2 linked regions of the Homo sapiens genome follow. Each later gene encodes a partner of the first gene's protein in a complex. Each region holds a gene or a part of one and is shown on either strand. Other genes may lie near its edges. The genes, in order: PDK3 and DLAT. A codon is read from its position in the direction of its gene.

Region 1 (8,731 bases):
TTTCAAAGGAAGAGGCATGAACTTTCTAAAAGAAAACTACCAAATCTTTTGATAGATATTTCCTATAAAAGTCTTCTGACCTATTTTGGGAGGGGTGGAGGGATTCACTAAGGTCATGAGAGAAGCATAATAATTTAAGGTTTTCCTTATAAGGAAGCGCACAGAAGTGCTAGATATAGTTGTAGTGGAATTTGCTAGAAGTGACAAGGCTAGTTTGTAACACCCAGAGATGAATCAGGTGCTAATCAGCCTATCTTTAATGACAGGACAACTAAAAGACGGGAGTTGTTGCAAAAAGGCCATCTCTACTTCTACTTTTCTCTTAGTTCTGTCTCTTGATAGCAGTTCTATTTTGGCAATTGATGTGGGAGTTGGAGAATTCAGAATGGGTGTGGGATATTTTTAAGGTGAGGAGAGAGGAGGAGTGAAGAGGCTTCATGCCCCTGTATGATTAGAGAAAACTGCAGGAGAGGGCCAACTCAGGCACTTAAAGCACCAGGTAGTGGGCAGTGGATAAGTGAATGAAGCCAACGAGTTGAGGACCGTGATAAATTCCTGGTATATAGCTAGCTCCAAAGGGGCAGCTGATTGGCACCAATTCAGTATATTTCAAGAGAACTTTGGCATAAACAAAATAGATGGATGGATCAAGTTGGCCCACAGGCTGCTAGTTTATGAACTTGATGCCTTTCTCCATGGGTACTTTACAAATGGGACGTACATTTTGACTAGAGTAACTAGACAGGGACCAGAGAAAGGAGATACACAGGATATACACAATTTGTTACAACCTTGATAAATAGGCTTTCTTATGTGGATGTACTGCACATCAGTAAATAAGGAGATTATTTGCTATGTTCAAAAGTGGAGGCTAAAACTTGTTGTTACTTCAGAAGCTGTGCTTTTATTTTAAAGCAGGGGTTCCTGAGCCTCAGCACTCTTGCCATTTCAGGCCAGGTAATTTTGGTAGGAGCTGTCTTGTGCACTGTGGGAAGTTGAGCTACATCCCTGGCCTCTACCCACTAGATGCCATGAGCACCTCCCACTCCAAGTCGTGACAACCAAACATGTCTCCAGTCATTGCCAAATGTCCCCTGGGGGAGCAAAATGTCCCCTGGACTTCTGTTGAATCACTGTTTGGAAGTGTTTACTTGAGTGGTTTTCAGGCCAGGGCCTCATACTCTGAATTTTTGTTGTAAATGGTCTGGGGGTGCTGGGGGTGGAGAGCAGAGCACTGGTATTTTTAGGAGATCCCCCTGTCATTCTAAAGCATATCCAGGGTTAAGCACCATTAATCAGATGATCTTCTGTCTGATCTGCTGGCCCCCTTTCATCTATGTGCAGTATTTTTCTCTATGCTTTTTAAAATAATGAAAGTTTCTTGAACTCCATCTTGACTTGAAATATAGCCTGCCACACAGTTAGCAAATATAGCAAGAATAACAAGTGTTCTAAATGGATTTTTAATTTATTATGGCAATAGTACATTCCAAAGGGTGGCATTTTTTAAAATGAGATTTTTCTTTTGGGCCTAAGATTACAGTCACATGGTTCCAAATTCAGAGGGTTCAAAAGGACACAGAAAAGCCTGCTTCCCACTTGTGCCCACTGGCCTCCCCTTTTTTCGCATAAATGGCAGTTTATAGCTTTGTCTGTTCCTTGTTTTTTGAGCTTAATACCTTAGAGACAGATTTTTGTATATCTGTACCTGCAGAACTTTGTTTTTCTTTTTTATGGCTTCTGAGAATTTGGTTATATGAATGTACCAGAATTTATTAGCAACTTTCCCTATTGATGGCTACAATTAATAGGTTGTTTCTAGACTTTGCTGTGGCAACCTGCCCTCCAGTGAATTATTATATGCATTGTCATTTCATGCATGTCCGCGTGTATCTGTAGGACAGATTCCTAAACGTGAGATTGCTACATCAGCAGGTATGTGCATTTGTAATTTTGGCGAACATTGTCAAATTGCTTTCCATAAAGGTTGTTTGTTTTCCCCCTCGCTAGAAGTTTCTGAGAGTACCTGTTTTCCTATGCCTTCACCACATTGTTGTCAAACTTTTGATAGGTAAAAAAAAAATGATATATCTAGATAGAATTTTTTTCTCCTTGAGTAAAGATGTCTTTATTTTAGTTTTTTATTGTGGAAATTAAAAAAAAAAACTTAGGTGGGTGCCTGTAATTCCAGTGCTTTGAGAGGCCAAGACAGAGGATGGCTTGAGACCAGGAGTTTGAGGCCAGCCCTGGGCAACATAGTGAGATCCTGTCTCTAAAAAAAATAATAATAATAAATAAATAAGATTAGCCAGGAGTGGTGGTATCGCACACCTGGGGTCTTAGCTACTCAGGAGGCTGAGACAGGAGGATGGCTTGAGCCCAGATTGAAGCTGCAGTGAGCTGTGTTTCTGCCACTGCACTCCAGCCTGGGGGATGTACATGTATAGGTAAATACATATATAAATTTTATTGTGTATAATTAAGGTATACAACATGATGTTATGGGATACATATAGTTAAAAGGTTACTACAGTGAAATTAACATATCTATCATCTCACATAGTTACCCTTTTTTATTTTTGTGGCAAGGTCAGCTAAAATCTACTCATTTAGCATGAATCCCATATACAGTACAATTTTATTATCTATTATATATTCTTCATGTTGTGCATTAGATCTCTAGACCTTAAACATTTACAGAAGTAGAGAGAATAGAATGATGAACTCCTGGGTTTGTTTTATTGATATCCATTTGCTATTTGTCTGTAGATGTTGTATGTGTGGTCTGTTAGATTTTCTGATCAAAGTCATGCTTGTTTCAAAAAGATAAATTTTTGTTTTCAAAAAGATAAATTTTTTTCTTTTCCTATGCTAAGACTAATTTATCTTTTGAATTATCTGGTTCTTAAAGATTTGGTAGAACTTCATATGAAAGTGTTTAAGCCTGTATGTTTTGGGGAGTTTTGCTCTCTGATAGCTTTCTCTATTCTGTGTTATTGATCTCTGTAGATTTTCTGTCTCTTCTAGAGTCCATTTTGATATATTTTTCTTGAAAATTATCCTACTTGGCTAGGCGCGGTGGCTCATGCCTGTAATCCCAGCACTTTGGGAGGCCAAGGCAGGTGGATCACATGGGGTTGGGAGTTTGAGACCAGCCTGGCCAACATGGTGAAACCTCGTCTCTACTAAAAATACAAACATTAGCTGGGCATAGTGGTGGGTGCCTGTAATCCCAGCTACTGGGGAGGCTGAGGTAGGAGAATTGCTTGAACCCAGGAGGCGGAGGTTGCAGTGAGCCAAGATCATGCCCTTGTACTCCAGCCTGGGTGACAAGAGTGAAACGGCATCTCAAAAAAAAAAAAAAAAAAAAAAAGAAGAAAAGAAAAAAAGAAAATTATCCTACTCATTGAGGTTTTTAAGTCAGTTTGGATAGCTGAGATAGTTGTCACTGAACAGTCTTAATTTTCCCTGTGACATTTGTCCCCCCCCTTCTTCTTGAGTAGGTTAGTTGATGATTTATTGGGTTGGATTTATTAGTTTTATGACTTTTGTTATCTAGTTTATTGTCTGATTTGACTTTAATAATTCCTTCTGGTCTCAGGTTTATTTTGTTCTTTTAAAAATTAGGTGCTTTCTGTTCTCACTCATAAGTGGGAGTTGAACAATGAGAACACATGGACACGGCAAGGGGAACATCACACACCAGGGCCTGTCGGGAGGTGGGGGGGCTAGGGGAGAGATAGCATTAGGAGAAATACCTAATGTAGATGACAAGTTGATGGGTGCAGCAAACCACCATGGCACGTGTATACCTATGTAACAAACCTGCACGTTCTGCACATGTACCCCAGAACTTAAAGTATAATAAAAAAAATTAAATGCTTTCTTCTTTGTCTTGTTTATTTCAATGTTTAAGGTTAGTTATTCCTCTGAGCACTGCTTTAGCAGCTGATGTGTGTATTTGGTCTTTTTTCTCTTAGCTCTTCTGTGTCTTCAGGTTTTTATTTTCCTATGAATGAAGAGTTGTTTGGAGGAGTTAAAAATTTCCAGTGAAGGTGCATTCTGCATTTTAATTTTATTTATGTCTAGTTTTGTTGCACTGTGATTACAGAATGTTGTCTGAATTATTCTCTAATTTATTGATGTTAACTTTGAAGCTCATTATATGGTTGTTTTCTGTGAATGTTCCTTGGGCAGCGAAAAGAAGGTTATACTCTCTTCTCAGGTTGCAGAGTGTGATATGTCAGCTCTGCAATATTATGTTATTTAGGTTTTGTGTAACTTTACTTTTTTTATCCACCTGATTTGTCATGGATCAAACACAAGAGAAGTTAAAGTCTCCTAATAATGATTCTCTTTCTCCGTATAGCTCCTATTGTTTTTGCTTTATGACTATCAGTGTTATGTTTGATGCTTATTAACTCACATCCTCATTGTGAGATATACCCATTAGCATTAGAGTGCTGCCCTTTTACTAGTTGAAGGCTTTTTGGCCTGGATTCGTCCTTATTTGACATTGAGATCTAGTTCCCTATTTTCTTGTTTACATTTCCTGGGATAGCATTGCCATCCTTTTATTTTCAGTTTTTCTGAATTACTTCGCTCTAAATATGTCTCTAAATGTAGTGTAAAGTTGGGTTTTGCTTTGTGAATCAGTCTTTTTCATGTGGTAAGTTTAACCTATTTATACTTACTGGTATGATAGATCTGTCATCTGTAATGATAAGCATTTGTAATTTTCTGTTGCTTTCTGTTTTTAATACCTCAGTTTTCCTATGTTATATATTTGCTTTGTTTTGCCATATTTATTTTAATAAATAACTAGGCTTGAATTTTTGGTTCTAGTGGTTATCTTTATAGTTATTACTTTATTTCTATAGACCTTTGTCCCATATGGGTCACCACTTGTCAGCCAGGAGACCTTTGAGCACTTGAAATGTGGCTAGTGTGGCCGAAAAACTGAATTGACTTAATTTAAATTTAAAATGGATACTTGATGCAGTTAATTTTTACATCTGTGTAGAATAACTTGGATATGGAATCCACTTTATCACCTGTAAATTTTAGGAAATCTCTTTATAGGTCAATTATTTCTGATAGAAATTTAGCCTCTGAATTGAGATGTGCTTTCAGTATAAAATACACACTGGATTTCAAAGACTTAATATAAAAATAGTAAAATATCAGTACATCTTATATTGATTGCATGTTGAAATGGTAATATTTTAGATATGTTGGGTTAAATGGAATATTATCAAAAACTTTATTTCTTTTTTATGTTAATGTGGCTACTAGGAAATTTTAAATTATATATATGGCTTACATATTTCTTTCTTTCTTTTTTTTTTTTTTTTTTTTTTTTTTGTGAGACGGAGTTTTTGCTCATGTTGCCCAGGCTGGAGTGCAATGGTGCGATCTGGGCTCACCGCAACCTCCGCCTCCCAGGTTCAAGTGATTCTCCTGCCTCAGCCTCCCAAGTAGCTGGGATTACAGGCATGCGCCTACATGCCCAGCTAATTTTGTATTTTTAGTAGAGATGGGGTTTCTCCATGTTGGTCAGGCTGGTCTTGAACTCTCGACCTCAGGTGATCTGCCCACCTCAGCCTCCCAAAGTGCTAGGATTACAGGCATGAGCCACAGCCCCTGGCCTGGCTCACATATTTATATTGGACAGTGTGGCTTCAGATAATATATGTTAATTCCTTATTGGGAGCAATGAAAACATCACATTTTAATGTTCAGAATAAACATTTATTGGCTGGGTGCAGTGGCTCACGCCTGTAATCCCAGCACTTTGGGAGGCCGAGGTGGGTGGATCACGAGGTCAAGAGATTGAGACCATCCTGGCCAACGTGGTGAAACCCCGTCTCTACTAAAAATACAAAAATTAGCCAGGCATGGTGGTGGGCGCCTATAGTCCCAGGTACTCGGGAGGCTGAGGCAGGAGAATTACTTGAACCTGGGAGGTGGAGGTTGCAGTGGGCCAAGATTGCGCCACTGCACTCCAGCCTGGCTAGAGTGAGACTCCGTCTCAAAAAACAAAACAAACAAACAAACAAAAACAAAAAAACCAACCACACATTTGTTGAATTTATTTATTTATTTATTTACTTATTTGAGACAGAGTCTCACTCTGTCACCTAGGCCAGAGTGCAACGGCTTGGTCTTGGCTCACTGCAACCTCTGCCTCCCGGGTTCAGGTGATTCTCCTGCCTCAGCCTCCCGAGTAGCTGGGATTACAGGTGTCTGCCACCACGCCTGGCTTATTTTTGTATTTTTAGTAGAGACGGGGTTTTGCCCTATTGCCCAGGCTGGTCTCGAACTCCTGACCTTAGGTGATCTACCCGCCTCTGCCTCCCAAAGTGCTGGGATTACAGGCATGAGTCACCGTGCCTGGCCTGAATTTATTTCCTGAAATATAACTTTCACATGTCTTGTTCCATATTTTTTTCTATAAACCTCTCTGGATTTTTGGATCAATGTATTGTTTTTGACTGGCAGTTAATGTTATGGTGGCTCCTTGTTATATTTGCACAAATTTGAGTTCTCTTTCCCTTAAGCAGTTGTGATAAATTAAAAATTCTCTTAATTATATAAGAAAAGGAGAACTTGGACTATTATGGCATAAAGATAGAACCTTCTGAATGTTGAATGAGTTGGTAGGAAATGATTCACATTTTCTTTTGGACTTGCTTTTCATCTTTCAGTCTCGCCCTGTCGGCTTCTGGTTCCCATATTAACCACTTTTCTCCCCTCCCTGCAGACTGACGTCCCATTTGTTTGATTTTCCAGTTACTTTTGCACAGCCACACTTGCATTAAAGAGATTTTGCTCCTGCCTCCTTTTCTTAGATTTTATCCTCAATTGTCTCTTTCCAAAGGGCAGGCGCTCACCTCTTTTTTGTAACCTCTTACAGCTTCCTCAGCTCAGCTTGCTCTGCACAGAGCAGGTGCTCCATAAATGGCAATTACTGATGGCATGCCTGACTCCATATCGAGGTTATTAAACATTATGCCACTTTCATTTAGTCAGTTATATAAGTTTATTTTATTTATTTATTTATTTATTTATTTATTTATTTATTTATTTATTTTGAGACGGAGTCTCACTCTGTCGCCCAGGCTAGAGTGCAGTGGCACCATCTCGGCTCACTGCAACCTCCGCCTCCCAGGTTCAAGCAGTTCTCGTGCCTCAGCCTCCCGAGTACCTGGGACTACAGGCATGCGCCACCACGCCCGGCTAATTTTTGTATTTTTAGCAGAGACGGGGTTTCACCGTCTTGGCCAGGCTGGTCTCGAACTCCTGACTTCAGGTGATCCACCCGCCTCTGCCTCCCAAAGTGTTGGGATTACAGACGTGAGCCACTGTGCCCAGCCAAGTTTAAACTTCCATAGTGTCCCCATGTGTAAATATAGCATCTCTCAAAACCACCAGAAAGCAGATTGCTGATAGCCCTGCCGTCTTTTCACAAAACTAAATATTTTGATTTCTGTCATAATCACACCGGCTCTGTGAACCTCAGAGCCTTTAGCTCTTAGAAGGTAGCGGCCAGTTTCCGCATTCTTACTATTCTTAAAGTTTAAGGGCCCAGCCATCTTCTTTTCCTTTAGAACATATTTTAAGATACTTTGGAGATACTTTGGTTCCAAATGACTCCCTTTCGCAAAGTCTTGGCTTTTTAAGTCATTTTGCTCCTTGAAGCCTGATCACCACTGGGGACAACAGTGATTGCGTTCTTGGAGAAAATGGAAAGGTTTTTAAAAAAATTATGTTAGGAAAAGGGAAAAACAATCTCATTCTGCTTCCGAGTGTGTTTATTTTGTACCTTTACATATGTAAATGACAGATTTTTTTTTTTTTTCCCTGTAAGCAGTAGTTTTTCTGCTACAAGGTGTCACCAAGAATTAGACCAACCTGTTTGGAGAAAGGGATCAACTATTCAGAATTAAAGGGGAAGAGAAAAATTTAGTTGAGGGTAAAGATATCTAACTTGGCTTATTGCATCTTGACCAGTTTTTAAATTTAAAGAAAGAATTGGTCCAGGCACTGTGGCTAATGCCTGTAATCCCAGCATTTTGAGAGGCTGAGGCAGGAGGATCGCTTGAGTCCAGGAGTTTGAGACCAGCTCGGGCAACACAGTGAGACCCCTGTCTCTACAAAAAAATAAAAAAATTATCCAGGCATAGTGGTGCACCCCTGTGGTCCCGGCTACATGGGAAGCTGAGATGGGAGGATCGCTTGAGCCTGGGAAGTTGAGGCTGCAGTGAGCTGGGATCGCGTCACTGCACTCCAGCCTGGACAATAGAGCAAGACCATGTCTCAAAAAAAGAAGGAGGGAGGGAAGTAGAAAGGGAAGGAAAGAAGGGAGGAAAGGTAGAAGACGGAAGGAGGAAAGGAAGGAAAGAAGGGAGGAAGTGAGGGCTTTTTGGGCCTTTAAGATCTGATAAGGCTGCATTTTAACATGGCGTGGTTTATCTGGCTCTGGGGCAGCTCTCAGGCACCAAAGTCATGGCTTTGGCCTCACTGTCTTTGTAGCACTTATGTTTTGTGTGCTTTTGAAAGTGGAGACAGCTGCAGTTACTGATCTATTGATGGTTGGGTGGTTTCCTCCCATTAAGCTTTTGGAAAATTGATCAGACTGTTGGCAAGGTTTGGGAAACCTTGGTTTTGTTACTGGATGGAATCTGAAAATATCACTGCTTTTTCTTTTCCTGTATATGTATAGGCATTC
Region 2 (8,731 bases), on another chromosome or scaffold:
AGGAGGTGGAGGTTGTGGTGAGCCGAGATCGTGCCATTGCACTCCAGCCTGGGCAACAAGAGCGAAACTCCGTCTCAAAAAAAAAAAAAAAAAAAAAAAAAAAAACACACACACACACACACACACACACACACACACATATATACACACACATATATATATATACACACACATATATATATGTTTAAGTCTGGAGATATATATATATATGTTTAAGGCTGGGCACGGTGGCTCACGCCTGTTATCCCAGCACTTTGGGAGGCCAAGGTAGGTGGATTACCTGAGGTCAGGAGTTCAAGACCAGCCTGGCCAACATGGTGAAACCCCATCTCCACTAAAAATACAAAAATTAGCCAGGCATGGTGGCAGGCGCCTGTAATCCCAGCTACTTGGGCAGCTGAGGCAGGAGAATTGCTTGAACCCGGGAGGTGGAAATTGCAGTGAGCCAAGATCATGCCATTGCACTCCAGCCTGGGCGACAAAGCAAGACTCTATCTCAAAAAAAAAAAAAAAAAAGGCTGGGTGCGGTGGTGGCTCACGCCTGTAATCCCAGCACTTTGGGAGGCACAAGGCAGTCAGATCACGAGGTCAGGAGTTCAAGACCAGCCTGGCCCACATAGTGAAACCACATTTCTACTAAAAATACAAAAATTAGCCGGGCGTAGTGGCATGCACCTGTAGTCCCAGCTACTCAGGAGGCTCAGGCAGGAGAATCGCTTGAACCCAGGAGGCAGAGGTTGTGGTGGGCCGAGATCACGCCACCGCACTCCAGCCTGGACAACAGAGCCAGACTCTGTTTCCAAAAAAAAAAAAAAGAAGTGTTTAAAATGAAAAGGCTCCTGGGCCACAATAGACTTCAAAGTTCAACCAAGGTAACACTTCTCTAGTGACTAGTCTCTATAGTGACACTGGTATTCAAGTTAAATGGTGAAGCAGAACTACTGTTTCCAAAGTTTCTGTGTTTTTAAGAAACAGAATCCTTTCTTCAAATAAAATTTATGGGGAAGCACAAAATACAAAAAGATAGAAAAGAACTGCTCTGCTGGAAGTAAGGCAGGGAGGCAGGGCTGTAAGGTCCTGCTCTTTAATTCCCCCTTTGCCTCAAGGTGCCTTAAAGGAATGATGGGATTTGAAGAACACAATCTGAAAACAACCAAGGCAGAGGATGCCCAGTACCTCCCATTACATCTTTGGGAAAGGCTTCCCTTTGGTGGTGATTATGAAGCAGAGAGGCTGGGTGCGGTGGCTTATGCCTGTAATCCCAGCACTTTGGGAGGCCGAGGCAGGCAGATCACCTGAGGTTAAAGAGCTCGAGACCAGCCTGGCCAACATGGTGAAACTCCATCTCTACTAAAAATGCAAAAAATTAGCCAGGCATGGTGGTGCATGCCTGTAGTCCCAGCTACTCGGGAGGCTGAGGCAGGAGAATTGCTTGAACCCAGGAGGCGGAGGCTGCAGTAAGCCAAGATCGCACCACTGTACTCAAGCCTGGGTGACAGAGCAAAACTCTGTCTCAAAAAAAAAAAAGAAAAAGCGGGGGTGCAGAGAGAAGAAATTCATAATACTACAAATCGCCATGGCTCACGCCTGTAATCCCAGCGCTTTGGGAGGCCAAGACAGGTGGATCACGAGGTCAGGAGATCAAGGCCATCCTGGCTAACACAGTGAAACCCCATCTCTACTAAAAATACAAAAAATTAGCCAGGCGTGGCAGCGGGCACCTGTAGTCCCAGCTACTCGGGAGGCTGAGGCAGGAGAATGGCGTGAACCCAGGAGGTGGAGCTTGCAGTGAGCTGAGACTGCGCCACTGCACTCCAGCCTGGGCAACACAGCGAGACTCCGTCTCAAAAAAAAAAAAAATAATAATAATAAATATATTATTGTCTATATGGGTTTTTTTAGCCTAAAAATGAATTAAGAAGGAGATATGTGGACATATGACATATCTGAACATATATATATTACACACATACATTCTATCAGTCATTCTCAAACTATGAAAACAATCTCAACCCTGGTTTCAGTTTTCCCTCAAAGTCATCTTAAATTCTTTGCTATTATCCTGCCATGGAAGTGATTTTCTCCTGTTTCTTCTTGACTTCCTTTGCCTAGTTTAGACAGCAGCAATTCTGATATAGCTTCTCAGTAACATAATAAGGCCAAGAAGCAAACTTGGGCCTAAAAATAATCTGTGAATTGACAGATTGATTGCCTTTGATTCAGTGAGCACAGGATGGAACTGACAAATCTGACTACGCATTATTTTTGTTATAAATTATGCTGGGCCAGGAACAGGGGCTCACGCTTGGAGTCCCAGCACTTTGAGAGGCCAAGGCAGGAGGATCGCTTGAGCCAGGAGTTCAAAACCAGCCTGGGCAATAAAGTGAGACCCCATCTCTACAAAAAATTTAAAAAATCAGCTAGGTGTGGTGGTTCAGGCCTGTAGTCCTACCTACTTGTGAGGCTAAAGCAGGAGGATCATTTGGGCATAAGCCCAGGAGTTCAAGGCTACAATGAGCTATGATCTTGCCACCGCACTCCAGCCTGGGCAACAGATTAAGACCCTGTCTGAAAAATAAGCAAATAAACAAATAAATAAATAAAAACTAAAGAATACATATAACTAAATAAAAATAAAATATTCTGTCCCAGAAAATGAATCCTAAGAATTATAAAGTTTTCATATTATCACTCACTCATTATAGGAAAGAATGGCAATCCTCTTCCTCATTGGGAAACTCAGTGCCTCAACCATTAAGAGCTGAAGAAATCTCACCTATAGTGGCTTTGTCAGTTTCTATCTCTGCCAGTAAGTCTCCTTCACTTAGCTTCTCACCCACTTTTTTTTCCCATCTCTGAACTGTGCCCATGGTCATGGTGGGAGAGAGGGCAGGAAGAAGTACCTGCAGAAACAAACACATATTATTGCTTAATACCAGGAAGACTTCTACATAATAAAAGTCTGGCAGACTTATGTGGTTTCATAGAATGATGGTGACTATGATAATCCAAATACTCACCACAGCAAAAGCTTCACACCTCAATAGCTTCCCACCAGGTAAATCATCCTTCAAATCTCATACTCTGACCCATACTCTTATACTCTCGCCCACACTCTAACACACACTCCAAGTTAAATGCAACAAGCACATGGGAAAGATTTCTTTCAGACAGTCAAAATTAATTTCTCAACATCTAAGTATGGAGCATCTTTTCATCTATTTTTATTTTTATTTTTATTTTGAGACAGAGTCTTGCTCTGTCCCCCAGGCTGGAGAGCAATGGCGCAATCTCGGCTCACTGCAACCTCCACCTCCTGGTTTCAAGTGATTCTCCTGCCTCAGCCTCCCGAGTAGCTGGATTACAGGCGGGTGCCATCATGCCCACTAATTTTTGTATTTTTGTAGAGATGGGGTTTTACCATGTTGGCCAGGCTGGTCTCTGAACGCCCATCCACAAGTAATCCGCCCGCCCTGGCCTCCCAAAGTGCTGGGATTACAGGCGTGAGCCACCGCGCCCAGACTTCATTTTTTTTTAACCAAGAAGTTTTTCATTTTCACAAAATGACCTTGGTCCAAACCATTCTGTTAAAATTTTACTGCGCTCTGTACTTAGCATCTACCTATTTTTTACCCACAGGAAACTGCATTTGTCCCAACCTTACCAGATATCTTTCCAAGATAAAAACGTAATATTAAGAACTGTTCTGTGCTCGCTTCAGCAACACATATACTAAAATTGGAACGATATAGAGATTAGCATGGCCCCTGCGCAAGGACAACAAATTCGTGAAGCATTCCATATTAAAAAAAAAAACATTATTTGGTGACAATAGTTAATAACAATGTATTGTATTCTTGTAAATTCCTGACAGTAGATTTTTAAGTGGCCTAAAAGATAAGTCTATAAAGTAATGCATATATAAATTAGCTCAATCTAGCCATTCCACAATATATACATATTTCAAAACAACTTGTTGTATATAATATATGTACACAGAATTCTTACACAGAATTTTATTTGATAATTTTTTTTTTTTTTGAGATGGAGTCTTACTCTGTTGCCCAGCCTGGAGTGCAGTGGCATGATGATCATTCAAAAAAATAAAACAGGAGGCCAGGCACAGCTGTTCACATCTGTAATCCCAGCACTTTGGGAGGCCAAGGATCACTTGGGAGGGGCGGATCACTTGAGGCCAGGAGTTCAAGACCAGCCGGGCCATCATGTCGAAACCCCCTCCTCTGCTAAAAATACCAAAATTAGCTGGGCATGGTGACACCCACCTGTAGTCCCAGCTACTCAGGAGGCTGAGGCATGAGAATCGCAGAGGTTGCCGTGAGCCAAGATCGTGCCACTACACTCCAGCCATGGTGACAGAGCAAGACTGTCTCAAAAAAAAAAAAAAAAAAAAAAAAAAAAAACAGGAAAGACCAGCATGGTGGCTCATGCCTATAATCTCAGCATTTTGGTAGGCTGATGCAGGAGGATCACTTGAGCCCAGGAGTTCACGACCAGCCTGAGCAACATGATGTAACCTCATCTCTTAAAAAAAAAAAAAAAAAAAAATTAGCTGGGCATGGTGGCACGTGCCTGTAGTCACAGCGTCTTGGGAGGCTGAGGTGGGAGGATGGCTTGAGCCAGGAGGTCAAGGCTACAGTGAGCTAAGATTGCACCACTGCACTCCAGCCTAGGTGAAGAGTGAGACCCTATCTCAAAAAATAAAATAGCTAGGTGTGGTGGTATGTGCATGTATTCCCAGCTAGTCGGGAGGCTGAGGCAGGAGAATCGCTTGAACCCAGGAGGCAGAGGTTGCAGTGAGCCGAAATCATGCCACTGCACTCCAGCCTAGGTGATGGAGTGAGACCCTGTTTCAAAAAATAAATAAATAAAAATAAAAAACCAGGGGTAAAAAAAGCCCTGTTTTTATAATAGCCATTTCCACCCCAATAATATCCAAACATCAGAATGCCTATCTAAATGTAAAATTGCTTTACTATTTATATGGCTTGTGTATCCACTGAATTTGGTTTCATTTGCTATCCTCTTTGTCTTCTGTATCTGATTAGCAACAGGATTATGCGGAGAGGAAAATAACTTCAATTGAAGATGTTTCCAGAGAGGGGAAAGTAAGACAAGCCTTAGAAAAAAAATTGTAAGTGCTTTTTTTGTGCAGAATTTGCCATCTTCATCTGCTTCTTAAGAAACAGTGAAGCCAATAATCTCTATACAGTATCTTAAAGAATACTATCAGAGATTCAGAATCCAATTCAGTATCTTAAAGAATAATTAAGGTAAAACCCTAACACATGCACACAAAGCTACAGACACAAAGTAGAGGAAAATTAAGTCAGTCTTACATCATGAGATAGAATTTGCCGAACAGCATGTAATACATGTGTGAACTGAACACCTGGCAAAAAATCCTAAATGATTGTTACTAACAGACCATGGAGTAGAACATTATTTCCAAAGGAGAAAAAGATTCCTATACAAAAATTTCTACAAATAAACTAGATTAAGGAGAAATGCCAGTCAGAATTATTTAGAAAAGGACGGCTGGATTTTTATCCACTTTTAACATCTAAAGCACACAAATATACAGACGATAACCCTAATACCTAATAAACTGACTTAGTTTCTTAGAAACTGATTTAGTTAGCACAATCAACAGTGATTACATTCACTGCCTTCAACTTTGATGCAACACTATTACATATGTGTATCTTACACTTAACTTTTGTCAGTTTTCTCATTTATTAATACTATTGGACTACTTCACCCACTCTTGGAAAATAGATCACCACATGTCAAAAGAACACCAACTGGGGACTTTCATTCAACAGACAGCACTTGACACCTATGATACAGCTTGGATGTCTGTCCCCTCCAAATCTCATGCTGAAATATGATCCCCCGACTTCCGTTTCCGGGTCAGAGCCATGGTGGTGGCAACTTCAAGCCCTGCTAACCCCATGGTGTTCTTTGATGTCAGCAATGGCAGTCAGGAAGTTGGCCGCACAAAGATCGAGCTCTCTGCAGACGTTGTGCCTAAGACGACCGAGAACTTTGGGTAGTTCTGCACTAGAGAATTCAGAAAAGATGGGGTTCCAATAGGATACAAAGGAAGCACTTTCCACAGGGTCATAAAGGATTTCATGATTTAGGGTGGAGATTTTGTTAATGGAGATGGTACTGGAGTCGCCAGTATTTACCAGGAGACATTCGCAGACGAAAATTTTAAACTTAGACACTCAGCTCCAGGCCTGCTTTCCACGGCAAACAGCGGTCCCAGTACAAATGGCTGTCAGTTCTTTATCACCTGCTCTAAGTGTGATTGGCTGGATGGGAAGCATGTAATGTTTGGAAAAATCACTGATGGACTTCTAGTGATGAGAAAGATTCAGAATGTTCCCACAGGCCCCAACAATAAGCCCAAACTACTGTGGTGATCTCAAAGTGCGGGGAGATGTAGTCCAGACCAAGACTGAATTAGGCCTTCCCTTCTTGGTGGTGTTCTTGAGTAAGATAATCTGGACTGGCCCCTGTGTTTGCTTCCCTGCCTGCTGCTGCCCCATTTGATCAAGAGACCCTGGAAGTACTGGAGATTCAGAATCCAAGACTGTGTAAATAAAGTTTTTTTGTATGTGGAAAAAAAAAAAAAGAAATATGATCCCCAATGTTAGAGATGGGGTCTGGTGGCAGGTGTCTGGGTATTGGAGGAGGATCCCTCGTGAATGGCTTGCTGCATGCCCCATGGTAATGAGTTAAGGGGAAATCTGATTGCTATAAAGAGCCTGGTTACCCACTCCCCTCTGTCTCTTGTTCCCTCTCTCATGGGACACACCACCCTTCCCCTTTCCCTTCCAACTTCCACCATGATTGTAAGCTTCCTGTGGCCACAAGAGAAACAGATGCTGGCGCCCTGCTTCTTGTACAGCCTGCAGAACCTTGAGCCAAATGAACCTTTTTTCTTTATAAATTACCCAGCCCTAGGTATTTCTTCATGCCAAAGTAAAACAGACTAACACAGCCTGCTATAAACTCTAATTATACAGGGAATAGATGTTAGTAAAAATCATCCTCAAAATCTGTAATGTAATGTTCTTGAATGAAAAGTGCCACGCATTACCCTGTGTACTACACTGAGGCTGAGAAAGGTTACAGGAACTGTTCAAGTTCTTATAACTGGAAATAACAACCAGGAAGAATAGTTGTCAATCTTCATGTTTAAACCTATATACTCCCAAATGACAAGACCTAACCACATTTAATGTCAGTTTCCAAGATGTAGTAGCCATCTATGAAAAAAAGTGAGTAAGTAAGTAATCACCTAGAGCAAAAACTCAGAGGCTGAGCCTCACCTGCATGTGAGGGGGATATGAGCTACCAGGAGCCTGAGCAGAAGGTGTAGGTGGCGAAGCAGTGGCAGCAGGGGTTGGTGCTGGGGCCGCTTGTGGGGTAGGTGCTGCTGAGGAATCCAGTGTATAATTTTTAAAGGCCTCAATATCCTCAGGCCTAAGGAAGAGAAAGAATGCATAAATATAATGGGCAGATTCAGCTTTCACAAAAGTAGTCTTAAAAAATAGTCTTTAACTCCTAATTCTCAATTCTGGGTAAAATACTCCACCAAGCAATGAAGTTCCACAAATTATGAGCGCACTACTCACTTGCCAACTGTGATACAGATGATCGCTCCGATGGGAACATCCCTGGTACCTTCAGCAACAAGTATCTTTGCCATATAACACTCCTCCAGGCTCTCAAATCCAACAGTGGCTTTATCAGTTTCAACCTTTTAACACAAAAAGCAGTAGCTCAGGTTTGTACTGTTGGTATGTAATTTATTAGCTTGTGTCTAGAATTTTTTTTTTTTTTTTTTTTTTTTTGAGACACAGAGTCTCATTCTGTCACCAAGGCTGGAGTGCAGTGGTGCAATCTCGGCTCATTGCAACCTCCCCCTCCCAGGTTCAAGCGATTATCCTGCCTCAGCCTCCCGAGTAGCTGGGATTACAGGAACAGGCTGCCATGCCCGGCTGATTTTTGTATTTTTAGCAGAGACGGGGTTTCACCATGTTGGCCAGCCTGGCCTTTGTGTCTAGAATTATACAGTTCATGTGAAGATAAGGCCACTACGACAGATTTCAAAGAAGAAATTACTTTAGAAACGCCTTGGTTAAAATCAGTTTGGCCAGCTGCTGACAACTTATCCAACCAATCTTGTCTAACATCAAGTTGTGAAAAACACTTCAGTTTCTTAAACAAAGGGGTAGCTACACATCCAGAAAGTCAATGTTCAGTCAATTAGGCAAAGCCAGTCTCTTCGAACTCATCTCCGTTACTTTAAAACAACTTACCCTCTCCCTCTCCCTCTCCGTCTCCCTCTCCCTCTCCCCACGGTCTCCCTCTCCCTCTCTTTCCACGGTCTCCCTCTGATGCTGAGCCGAAGCTGGACTGTACTGCTGCCTTCTCGGCTCACTGCAACCTCCCTGCCTGATTCTCCTGCCTCAGCCTGCTGAGTGCCTGCGATTGCAGGCACGCGCCGCCACGCCTGACTGGTTTTCGTATTTTTTTGGTGGAGACGGGGTTTCGCTGTGTTGGCCGGGCTGGTCTCCAGCTCCTAACCGCGAGTGATCCGCCAGCCTTGGCCTCCCGAGGTGCCGGGATTGCAGACGGAGTCTGGTTCACTCAGTGCTCAATGGTGCCCAGGCTGGAGTGCAGTGGCGTGATCTCG

What was found.
Region 2: the proteins of PDK3 (region 1) and DLAT are in contact, whole or in part, in a crystal structure (PDB 1Y8N), measured with the Homo sapiens proteins. Residues at the interface, in NP_005382.1 of Homo sapiens: Arg21, Phe22, Ser23, Pro24, Ser25, Pro26, Leu27, Phe48, Lys51, Val55, Asn373, Lys374, Ser375, Arg378; in NP_001922.2 of Homo sapiens: Ala225 (codon at 2,891), Leu226 (codon at 2,888), Ser227 (codon at 2,885), Pro228 (codon at 2,882), Thr229 (codon at 2,879), Glu248 (codon at 2,822), Gly249 (codon at 2,819), Lys259 (codon at 2,789), Ala260 (codon at 2,786), Ile262 (codon at 2,780), Glu265.

Annotation. Positions count from the first base shown.
Region 1 is NC_000023.11:24,467,338-24,476,068, forward strand, and holds part of PDK3 (pyruvate dehydrogenase kinase, isozyme 3 isoform 2 precursor), read left to right. Parts: intron 1-8,731. UniProt on the Homo sapiens protein: Inhibits pyruvate dehydrogenase activity by phosphorylation of the E1 subunit PDHA1, and thereby regulates glucose metabolism and aerobic respiration. Can also phosphorylate PDHA2.
Region 2 is NC_000011.10:112,027,576-112,036,306, reverse strand, and holds part of DLAT (dihydrolipoyllysine-residue acetyltransferase component of pyruvate dehydrogenase complex, mitochondrial isoform 2 precursor), read right to left. Parts: intron 7,793-8,731; coding exon 7,668-7,792; coding exon of another isoform or gene 7,664-7,667; intron 7,516-7,663; coding exon 7,362-7,515; intron 6,646-7,361; exon of another isoform or gene 5,916-6,645; intron 2,904-5,915; coding exon 2,777-2,903; intron 1-2,776.